2 linked regions of the Homo sapiens genome follow. The protein of the gene in region 2 interacts with the protein of the main gene of each other region in a pairwise test. Each region holds a gene or a part of one and is shown on either strand. Other genes may lie near its edges. The genes, in order: STATH and SGPL1.

Region 1 (4,410 bases), on a different chromosome or scaffold from region 2:
TCGCTCTCATGCTTAGTTCATATCTTTCATAAAATGTCACTATGTCAGAGAGTCTCTTGTTGACTATCCTGTTTAAATTTGTTTCTGTGCCCTAGACATGCTTATACTTCTTTAGCACACTTATCATTGCCTAAGATATGTACTATTTATTTACTTTGTATCTGCATCTCCCAACTACAATGTAAACTCTCCAAAGACAGGACTTTTGTCTCTCTTTGTCTGCAGCATCTAGAAGAGGACCTGACAGCTGGGGTCATTCAATAAATATTTCTTGAATAAAAGTCATTGCTGAAAAACTAATGGAGGGCATTAGATGGTTTACATGCAGAGTGCCTACATACTGCTGTAGAGTGACATGGTGGTTATCTTCTGACCTACAGGGACTGAGATAAAAAATGTGAGTGCTTTGGAGGCTTAGCAACTGTGGTGTGGCAAAGGAAACCATGGGCAAATCAAATCTTGGCATAAATAGCTCTAATAATAAGTGAGTTTGAGTACCATGTTTGTAACATATAAAATATGACAGACTAAATTATAAATAAGGACCTCTGACATTATGGGCTTCAATCTGTGCTAGTCAAACTGGGAAAGAAGATGATGAAAGAAATCATTATTCCTATAAATAGAAAAGAGAAAAATAAGGAGCATACATGTAAAAATGTGCTTGAAATTTATTGCTTTTAGAGAAGTGATTTCTATTATTCAGAAACAGTACTGAACACAGCTTAACAGTTTAAATTGCAATTATATCATCAAGTGACAATTGAAAAGGCAAGTATCCTGAAACAAAGAGTATACAGTAAATTATAGTGTTTTTCATTTGCATTGCTCTTTGATGATTCTTCAAAAAGTGGTAGTAGTGTGATATGGTATGAAAGATGAGAATATGGATGTAGAAGTCGTATTTGCCAATCAAGCCTGCACAGAAAAAAAAAAATAACAGATTATCTGTAAAATTTTTACCCCTGTAAACACATTTATATTCTGGCCTGGTACAGAGTAGATATTATATACAATTATAGTTTATAAAATGCAGGGCCCAAAATAATATTTGACACAGAGTAGACAATTAAACAATTATTAAATTGGTTCCTGAATAAATAAAAATTATCATTCAGCATCTACAATTTAAATTATTTTTCAATCATCATACTATTTTATTCTTCTACTTAAATATAGCCTACACATTTCATTTATATGCATTTCCTCTAAATAATATTTCAATACATCTTTTCTTGATTAAATGTCATCAGCTATTACCTAAAACCTAGGGGATCAAGTTCAGGCTCTTCCCTGTATCACTAATGGCAATAGAGAATTGAATTGGAATATAATCTCCCAAATGCACTGAAAAATAATTGAAATCCTTTGGACTATTTTAACTTTGTAGAACAATCCTCCCTTATCTCCAAGAGTTTGCTCTATTTTGTTTTGAAATATTATTTTTTCATAGAATTTAGAACATTTAATGTTGTGTAGAGATAGGTAAAACTGACTTTCTAAAAAGAAATTGATAACATTTCCATATTTTCTTGTTAGCATTATGTTAATAATTTCTATAGTAATTGCTCAGTAGAGTTACTTAGGGTACAAAATGCAAATTTCTCACAAGTTCCCAGATGGTTCCCAGATGGAAGCTTCTCCAAAGATTGCATTTTGGGAGTGAAAACTTTAAGCAACACCTAGGTACAGATTTAGTGGCAGGGAAGCCCTGCAGTTATAACTACAAACCTTTCTGATCAAGAGATTTTATGTGATATGTCTTTCAAAAGTGTCACCAATTCTAAAAAGCACATTTAAGTGTTATCATAATACACAATTTTTTGACGAGAAAACTGAGGTTCAGGAGCATTAGGAGTAGTTCAAAGTCATGAAACTAGTAGTTGTCAGGGCCAGCATACAAACCCTGGTGTCCCCCACTCTATAACACTGCCTTCTAACCATAGCAGGACAGAGACTATCTCAGAAGCATTTATATAAATTAATACATTTCAAGGAGCTATACAGCTGGCTGCTTTCTTATACTGGAACTGCTGTTGGTTTAATGTCTTGTTTTTGTTTTTCTTCTTTTAACTGTCAGCACTGATACAGAAAGTAAAAAAAATGTCACTAAACCCATCTTACCTCAATAATCATGTCCTGCAGTTACTGATGATATTAAAAGGTATATTGTTGGTATTGTGGTTGGTATGGTTGTGGGTATAGTGGTTGTTCTGGAACTGGCTGATAAGGGCCATACCCATACTGTATACACACAAGGAGAAAGAAAATTGCAGAAAATTGAGATAATGACAGTGCAAGCGTTTTTATTAGAAGCTTAGATTGTTAAAGTTTTAGGAACTTACATATTACTTATAAGATTTTTTTCCAAACTTTCAATTAGATTTTTCTTTTTGGTTATAAACACATTTTAAAAGCAGGTAAAAATGATTGAGTGTTTACCTTTGTACTGCATGTTCACAGTTTTGTGGTTTTATTTCACATGCAGGAACACCGATTATAGGCTATCACTCCAAAGAGGTTTTAAATTTTCTTCAAAATACTACCTCCCAGCAACCATTTTGCCCACCTTTGAGTATTATGGGAAGGAGACATTTACTAAATTCAGCTTATGTGGTGTTTCTTCAAGTCACTCTTTTAATGAGCTTACTGTCTCTTACGATTCCTACATTCCTTAATACTTCTTCCTTCTGTTAACACAAATAACCATCATCCCTTTTAGAGTATCTTTTTATTTGGTGTTATTTTAATCCATGTATTCACTATATTAGTTAGGGGATCTTTTGCAACCCTATCACATTGACATTATATGTCAACATACTGGGACATCAAGATACATACATTAAGAAAAATGTTAAATAAATGAAATTTGCTATCTCATTTATCATGACCTGTTTAATTTAATGAGTTTATCACCGTCAAAAAAAATCAGAAGGTGCAAACTTACCATATTTTATGTGTAATTATCAGCCTTTATGCTCCATGAGGCATATATTATAATTAACAGAATTAGAATTTCAACTATTTTTTAGGTCAAAGTGATTACTTAGGAGATGATACTTGAGGGCTCAGGGAGTAACTGGTTTCTTCAGGTTGGCACTATGAGTTTCAACTTAAATGTTGTTAGGACACAATACATTTGTGACTGTTACCTGTGTATCATAAATAGAGGAAAACAAAGCACACTTTTGCAACTACTACACATATTTGAGAAATAAGTATTGGTTCTTCTAGAAGAATAAGTAATCAGAGAACACAATTTATTTGGACTACACAGCATTATCAGAGAACACTTACACCGAATCTTCCAATTCTACGCAAAAATTTCTGTGAAAAATGAAGAAAAGTTTAATAATTCAATACAAATGTAGGGAGGACAAAACTGAAAACAAGTTTTCCAGTGAATGAAAATGACTCACCTCTTCAGATGAATCAGCTCCCTTAGAAAACAGAAAATTAGACAATAGTTAGTATCTTAATGTTATAATTCCAGATTGAGTACAAAAATGAACTCAGCAGCTACAGTTGTGAGTAAACAGGATGTAGGCAAATCATCGATAGACACTAAATTAGTTATTTTTGCTTCATGACATCTTTAAAATGAGTTAAGAGTATGCTTTTCTGTAATTAGTGTGCTATATTCAAATATAAATTTATTTGGATTTATACTTGTTTTGTGTGTAAAAGGGAGTAAATGGTTATCATTGGTGAATGAAAAGTGAAACTTTGTATTTTTTCATAAGAATATGTTTTCAGCAGCTCAAAGGCTACTTACACATAACTTTTATTTACTGACAGAGACAAGCATTATGTTTTTCTCTGTTTTCCTTACATTTTTATTTTTTATTTTTTAGACACCTATCCTTTTATAACAAATAATGTGGTATACTGTGATTTTATAATCAAATTAGTTTTTGAAATATCTGTTAGAATTTACCAGGTAAGTTGAACTATTTTTATTCTTTCATGGCCAGTTTCCTACTAATGTCATAGAAAAGGGACAGGAGAAATAGAAGGAAGTAGAGTAGAAGAAAGAGCTCCAGAGAAGTCAAGTGCTTTACCTAGTGATACATAGTAGTAAATGACAATAAAAGCTGGGAACTCATAACATGTCATAGATCTGAAGTTTTGTTTTATAGTTAAAAATAAGCAGCTTTATTTTAGAAAGTGTGTGCTAAATAATTGTATACTAATTTTAAGTTAGTTTTTGCAAGGAATGACTTGAAAATTTCTACTTTGACATCTTCTAATACTTGAATTCCACTCAAGTGCACCTAGTTCATTCCTGAGATTTCTAACTTCAGATTGTCTAGAGCATTACATGTTTAAAGATACTTTTAGAAGCTCTCAGTTCCACATATTTAAGAAGTTCAGTAAAACTTTCTTTTATTTCACACTAAGCTAAATATA
Region 2 (7,305 bases):
TAATCTGTCTTGTTCCATAAATGTGATTTTGGAACTATGTAATTATTTTACCTAGTTTTAAATGAACCAGGGCTCCTTGGATAAATGGCTGATTGAAGGCCTGGAGCAGGAAATGGACAAAGTGAACCTGAACCTGGAATATTTCGTCAAAAAAAAAAAAAAAAGGAAAGAAAGAGAAAAAAGGCTTTCAAAGATTACTTGGGTCATGTAAATGGACCTAGGAGCCAATATGATGTTTCCACTGGCCAAAGATGGATGAGGCAATTTGTACATCAATCTGAATAAGAGCTACAATGGATTGAGGCACACACAGCATTCCACAATTTATTCATCTGTGTCCTGTGGATAGGCATTTGAATTACTTCCAGTTTTTAGCTATCATGAATAACATTGCTATGAATATTAATGTCCATATATCCTGATATATATGTGTACTAATTTTTCTAGAGTATGTCCTAGTAGCAGAATTTCTGGGTCATAAGATATATGTATCTTCAAATTTACCAGATAAGGCCAAACTGTTCTGTGGCTATTCACTCTGGCCTCTTACAAGTTCTTCAAGAGTCTAATGGCATAGGAGAATATACTGTAAGTACATTATCATCTTCCCTCTGAAAGTCACCCTGTTCACCTCAGTACTCTAAGGGAAACTGCTGCTGTATTATGGGTGGTTCTGTTTTTAACAGTTTCAGTATTTTGCTTTGAAAATGAATGCCAGGCATATCACCTTTATTACTACTAATATTTGAACATGATGATTTTCATGGCGCCAACATATTAGAAAAACAAAACAAAAACAATGCTTCCTGGAAAAAAAAAAAGAAACTAAATTAGGTGCTCTTCGAATGGGCCCTTCAATAATTAAATCTGCAGTCTTTATAATGACTGCAAATATGATGAGTATCTGATAGGATTAGCACCTCTAGGACACCATTGCAGCATATTGAGTTAAATCTATCTATCCTACATAACCTGAGATTTCGTTTTTTCTAAAGACAACAGATCTAAACAGAAGTTTATCTATCATAGTTTACGAAAACTAACAACCATCTACTTGAAAGAACAGGTAAAACAAAGAATCCTCATGTGTTTCTTTAAATATAATGATGTCCTCCCCCTTTCTTTATGCCTAATAGCAACTAAATGAGGTTCAGTTTACAGCAAAATAATAAATTAAACTTTGGCTCAGGTAAAACCAGAAGTACACTAAAAACACTGCTGGATGGAACAACAAAAGTATACACAGATAAATAGGGGAATGGTAGGTATGCAGGTGGGGGATGAGGGAAGAAGCGGGTAGGGAGGGAAAGAGTGTAGAGAGCAGATATGGCAACATATTTACATTTAGTGAATCTAAGGTGTTCTTTAAGCCATCCTAGCAACTCAATGTAGGTTCAAAGTTTTTCAAAATAAAAAGGTGAAAATAAAAATATCTAGAAGAATATATACCAAAATGTTGACATTGTCTAGGTTACAAAATTACAAGTAACATTTAAAACTGCAGTTAATTAGGATCTTTCTACAATGATCAAATATTCCTTGTGTAGTAAAATGACCTTTCTACAATGATCAAATATTTCTTGTGTAGTAAAATATTTTTAATATTTTTTATTTTTTAAAATATAATTAATATTTATTAAAAACTCTTCTATTTTAACCTAAAAAATAAGGCTATTGGATGCCCCTTGCATATACTTACACATCCACACGAATCTGGTCCCCCATTGAACAGGGAACAAGCTATCCTCACGATTTCTGCCTCTATCTTGCGTAGTCCTGGGAAGATATCTGGATGCAGGGGGTTACTCCATGCAAAATCTCCATAAGCCTGCAAAAAAATGCAAGCAGATGTGAAATCAAAACTATTACACTATACAGGACAAAGAATCATGCACTAAACAACAGTTTCTAAGTATTAGGCACAACAATATAAACTGGAAAAAAAGATAAGATATATTCCTCAACCAAAAGATCAAAACATAGCAGAGGAGACAGACATGTAAATAAATAATTTTACAATGTGATGAGGAAAGAAGTATAAATATGGTTAAAAGCGCAGACTATAACACCAAACCGACCCAGGAGGAAGTCTAAGCTTTGCCTATTACTTTCAGCTGTGTAGGTCACATAATCTAAGGTTGTTTCTTCATACGCAGAAGTTGTTATGGTAGCTATCTTCTAGTGTTCTAGCAATAATTAAATAACATAATGCATGTGAAGCACTTAGTAGAGTGTCTGGCACAAAGCAGCTGTTGTTATCGACTGCAATATCAGGTGTGTGTACAGAGTGCTAAGGGACCCTGAAGAGGGAACAACTAACATCCTGAGTGATCTAGAGGTGTCTGCTGAGTGGAACTTTGAGAGATGAGTAGGAATCATCATTTGGAACAAGAGGAATGATGGAAGGGAAGGAAAACAACGTAAAAGCATGACACATTTAGTAAAGAGAAAAGGCAGGATTAGTGTTTATGTGGGAAATGAAGAGAAGTAGTTAAGAAAAAATAAGTGGGAGCTGGCTCATGAAGAAACTTGTATTCTCTGCTGCATAAGAACCTGAGTTTCATCCTGTAGATAATGGGAAGCTACTGAAAGATTTTAAGCACAGAAGATCAGAGCATTACACCAACTTATGCAAAACCTGCCATATTTATTTAGTAAGGGACAGTTTCATATTTATAATAATCAAACACAAAGACCTTAGAGATCATCAGTACAACCCCAATTTTATATGATGAAGTGGAGTTTCAAAAATAAATATGAGGGCCGAGTGCAGTGGTTCACAGCTGTAATCTCAACACTTTCAGAGGCCAAGGCAGGAGGATCACTTGAGGCTGGGAGTTGAAGACCAACCTGGGCAACAGAGTGAGACCCCATCTCCAACAAAAAAATACAAAAATTAGCTGGGTGTCATGATGCACGCCTGTAGTCCCAACTACTCAGGAGGCTGAGGTGGGAGGATCACTTGAGCCAAAGAGGTCAAGGCTGAAGTGAGCCATGATTACACCACTCCACTCCAGCCTGTGTGACAGAGTGAGACTTTGTCTGTAAAAATAATAAAATAAAATAAAAATAAATTTGATTAGAAATGGAAGAAGCTAAGAATGAGAATTATTTGAAGTATACATGAGACCACTGCTCATCTTGGGTCACATGATTTGAGAAAATTATGAAAGAGTTTCCCTATCTTATCTCTTCTTATCAAACAAAATCTGTCTCACCACAAAAATCTCATCTGACAGGACTACCTTCCCTAGTAATCTGCCTTCTAGACAGGACATCTGCAAAGACTGAAAACATAAATAACATTTTACTATTTTACAGACTGAAGATGTCTTTGATAATATTATACATATTCGCCTATGTTTGGGTGAAGAGAAACTTTTATGGTTTTATTGTACCAATAAGCTTTCCTTAAGTAATTTTTCTAATTACAAAAGTAAGGGAAAAAAAGGAGGTCATGTAAACTGGCACAGACCTCACAGGCTTCCCTCAAGAACTGGACACTCACCTTCACAAGGAGCTCAGTGAGCTTCTCCTCCCCACTGTACACTGTTCCAGAGGCTCTCCCCTCTTGCCAGAAGGCGTCTGCAGAGAAAGGTAAGGTCACTGGTCAGTAAGCAAGAATCTCTGGGAAGACAGGTTCTGATAAAGAAGAAACAGGAAGAAACTCCTCTGGATACAAAAGAAAAAAATGTTGAGTGGAAACCCAACAGCATTCTTATAGCAAATCAAGAAAAAAGTTCAATAGAGTTAGCACAATAAAATAAAGATGAAAAATCATTATTATCAGCAATGTGAAAAAGATATTAATAGCATTTAGCTACAATAAAGGCAATCTGATAATAATGTTGTCCTCATCCTCAACTGCCTTCTAACAGCAGGAACATTTGCCTTTGTCTATACTTATTTTTTGTTCTCTATATGGCTTTGGAGTGGCCTTTTTCTGCAATAGCTTCCTTCTTCTCTCCTTTCCTATCCAGTCCTAGGAATTTTGAGAACTATTATGAGCAGAGTTGGCAGAAGAAAGCAAAATGAAAAGTGTGAAATTTCAGCACACTATCATCAGAGATGAAACCAGCAAACAAACCACAATGAGGTATAAACCATGAGCACCCCGGTCTCAGACGCCGGCTCCCTTAAGCCAAGCCTGGAAACCCACATAAAACTAGTTACCTGCTTCCAGCAGCACACGCTGTAGCATATTCAAGATCAGGAACACAGTCAACATTGGGATAAACCTCCTTTATCCCAGTGTGGAAAGAAAAGTAAAGTTCCTGAGTAGAATATAAGATCTGACTTTCCACTTTCCTCTCTCCCCGAGACATTCTTCATTTTACCCACAAATTTGTTGATATGGGTGTCTCAGGTCCTTGTGCTACAATGCAGCTGTGCCCTATTGAAAGTGGGTAGTGAGAAAGCTATTACGGAAACACACCAACTAAAAACTGCATGGAGCCAAGGGCTCTCCAAAGCAAAGATCTTCAGCTCTTGAGAACAGAAAACTAAGTGGTAAATATACAGACAAACTCATTCTTACAGCAATCTGCCAAGCTCTGGCTTGCTGCCCGTTTGACTTTCACTCTTTCCTTAGAGGACACTGCTCTGTACTATACACAGCTTCAGACCAGTGGTCACCAGCCTTTCAAAAATAAGATAACTGGTTTCATTTCCTGTTCTTTTACTGATGCTAGAGAATACAGCAATGGACAGTGACTTAAACATTAAAGAGAAGGCAATATGATGGCGGCAACCAGGTCTCATAATCATGGAAATCTTTAACACCAGGTTTTAGAGTGCTAACCACTGCTTTATTCATCTACATCCTAGACTATATCAAATTTTGTACTATTCAATGTCAAGACCTCAACACATGTCACTTAGAAATTGTAAGGGTATTTGTCAAGGCCGAGCACAGTGGCTCACACCTGTAATCCTAGCACTTTGGGAGGCCAAGGTGGGCAGATCACCTGAGTTCAGGAGTTCGAGACCAACCTGGGCAACATGGTGAAATCTTATCTCTACTAAAAACACAAAAAATTAGCTGGGTATGGTGCCGCACGCCTGTAATCTCAGCTACTTGGGAGGCTGAGGCACGAGAATTGCTTAAGCCTGGAAGGTGGAAGTTGCAGTGAGCTGAGATCACACCACTGCATTCCAGCCTGGGCAACACAGTGAGACTCTGTCTCAAAAAATAAAAAATAAGGGTATTTGTCAAAATGCAACATGGCTCCTGGTTGGCTCCTAGAATAGAAAAAAGAACATTAGTTTAAAACAAAACATAGCAAAACAAAAAAAAACCCTGATGAACTAGAAATAGAATTTGTAGTGTAGTTAATAGCACTGTACCAATGTTAATTTTTTAGTTTTGATAAACGTACCATGGTTATAGAGGATGTTAACATCAGGAGAAGCTGGGTATAGGGAAATCTCTATCATCTTTGCTACTTTTCTGTAAATATATCAAACTAAAAAGCTTCTTTTTAAAAAGTACTTGTAATATGATCTTAATCAGTAACAAACATAAATCTGTTTGAGTTAATAATAGCAATAATGTTTAACATTTACTGAATCCTTACTATATGCCAGGCACTATAAAACATTTATACATGTATGATCTCATTTAATCCCCATAATCATCTTTTCAGGTAAGTACTGTACTACTATTACTATCCCCATTGTAGAGATACAGGAACTGTGACATACAGAAGTAACTCGCCAAAGGCATACTTTAAGTGGCAAACCAAGGTATGAATCCAGGCTGGTTCCAGGGTTACGCTCTTAAGCACCAAGCTATTTGGTCTATTTATCCATCCCATATGTGCTCATGCATACATGTGTATACACACAGACAAACACTATTAGCATTCTCAGAAACAGACAGATATACATATATAGATAGATGTAAACTATATAGACAGCTCTACCTATAGCTACATGCATAAAGATAGACACCATCTGTTTATCTTTGATAGTGGAATTATAGTGACTTATTTTCTTTTGTGCCTTTATGCAGATTTCACATTTTTACATGGATCTGTATTTCATTTGTATTACATATCTTATATTCTCTCTTCTTAAACACAAATATATTTGTTTTATTCATGCTTACAAAAGGAAATAAAAGCCAAGTTCCACTGTCTCTGAGATTTGCTTGCTTTATGGATGAAGGATGAATCTAAACATAATTTTAAAAATAGGAAATTCAACCTGTGAAACAGAGAGTAGGCCCTCCTAAACATGTATTAACCAATGATGAGTTATTCTTAACCTATGTGAACATTAAACAATGACAAAACCTGTCTCTTTAAGGAAGTAGAGAGCATGTATATGCCAAGCATCATACCCATAGAGCTGTACTCCTTAAGTTTCTCCAAAACAGCAGATGAGCTCAGACCCTGGGAGGGTAAAGCTTTCACATACTCTTTGTCCACTTTCAGGAATGACATGTTCTTGCTAATATCATCCTTGGTCTTGTTCAACTTGTCTTGAATCTCCAAAGGTAAGAAAGACAAAGTTATCCAGATGCAAGAGTACAGTAGAGACAGCAGAATTATTATGACAGTCAAGCAACTGCTCAATGCTAGGCACCGCACAAGTAACTAAACTAACATTTTTCCTAAAGATATATGGTGATATTCTGACTGATCAGCTACTTTCTGGCATGTACAATAGCCTCTTAAAAATTTGAAAAGCGAAGCTTCTCTCTAAAGGTCAAGATGCACTCAGCCGGTCGCGGTGGCTTACACCTATTATCACAGCTCTTCAGGAAGCCGAGGTGGGCAGATCATTACAGGTCAGGAGTTCGAGACCAGCCTGGCCAACATGGTGAAACCCCATCTCTACTAAAAATACAAAAATTAGCCAGGCATGGTAGCAGGCATTTGTAATCCCAGCTACTTGGGAGGCTGAGGCATGAGAATCACTTGAACCCAGGAGGTGGAGGTTGCAGTGAGCCAAGATCACACCACTGTACTCCATTCAGCCTGGGCAACAGAGCAAGACTCTGTCTCAAAAAAAAAAAAAAAAAAGTTGCACCCAATTTCCCCATAACCCTTTTCTCTGCCACATTGACATCACTGCTGCTTCACTTGGTTGGCATTGCTAAAGTCAGCACATCCTTGAGGGCAGTATTTGGACTTTGATCCTGCCTTGGCAGCAGCTACAGTGTGTGTGTAAAAGAATCAAAGGTATAACTAGGAACAGTGGCCAGAAAACTGGCCATGCTGCAGTAAAAGTGATTCTGGTCCTTGTGCAAGTGATGAGCTCCTTCAACAGACATACACGCAGCACACTAGGAATTTGGAG

What was found.
Region 1: the proteins of SGPL1 (region 2) and STATH interact in binary tests that used the Homo sapiens proteins (3 or more experiments, as listed by UniProt).

What each region holds. Positions count from the first base shown.
Region 1 is NC_000004.12:69,998,697-70,003,106, reverse strand, and holds the end of STATH (statherin isoform a precursor), read right to left. Parts: intron 3,441-4,410; coding exon 3,420-3,440; intron 3,328-3,419; coding exon 3,298-3,327; intron 2,245-3,297; coding exon 2,158-2,244; 3' UTR 2,125-2,157; intron 919-2,124; 3' UTR 537-918; downstream 1-536. UniProt on the Homo sapiens protein: Salivary protein that stabilizes saliva supersaturated with calcium salts by inhibiting the precipitation of calcium phosphate salts. It also modulates hydroxyapatite crystal formation on the tooth surface.
Region 2 is NC_000010.11:70,853,894-70,861,198, reverse strand, and holds part of SGPL1 (sphingosine-1-phosphate lyase 1), read right to left. Parts: intron 6,492-7,305; coding exon 6,344-6,491; intron 5,412-6,343; coding exon of another isoform or gene 5,379-5,411; intron 3,586-5,378; coding exon 3,509-3,585; intron 1,829-3,508; coding exon 1,700-1,828; intron 1-1,699. UniProt on the Homo sapiens protein: Cleaves phosphorylated sphingoid bases (PSBs), such as sphingosine-1-phosphate, into fatty aldehydes and phosphoethanolamine. Elevates stress-induced ceramide production and apoptosis.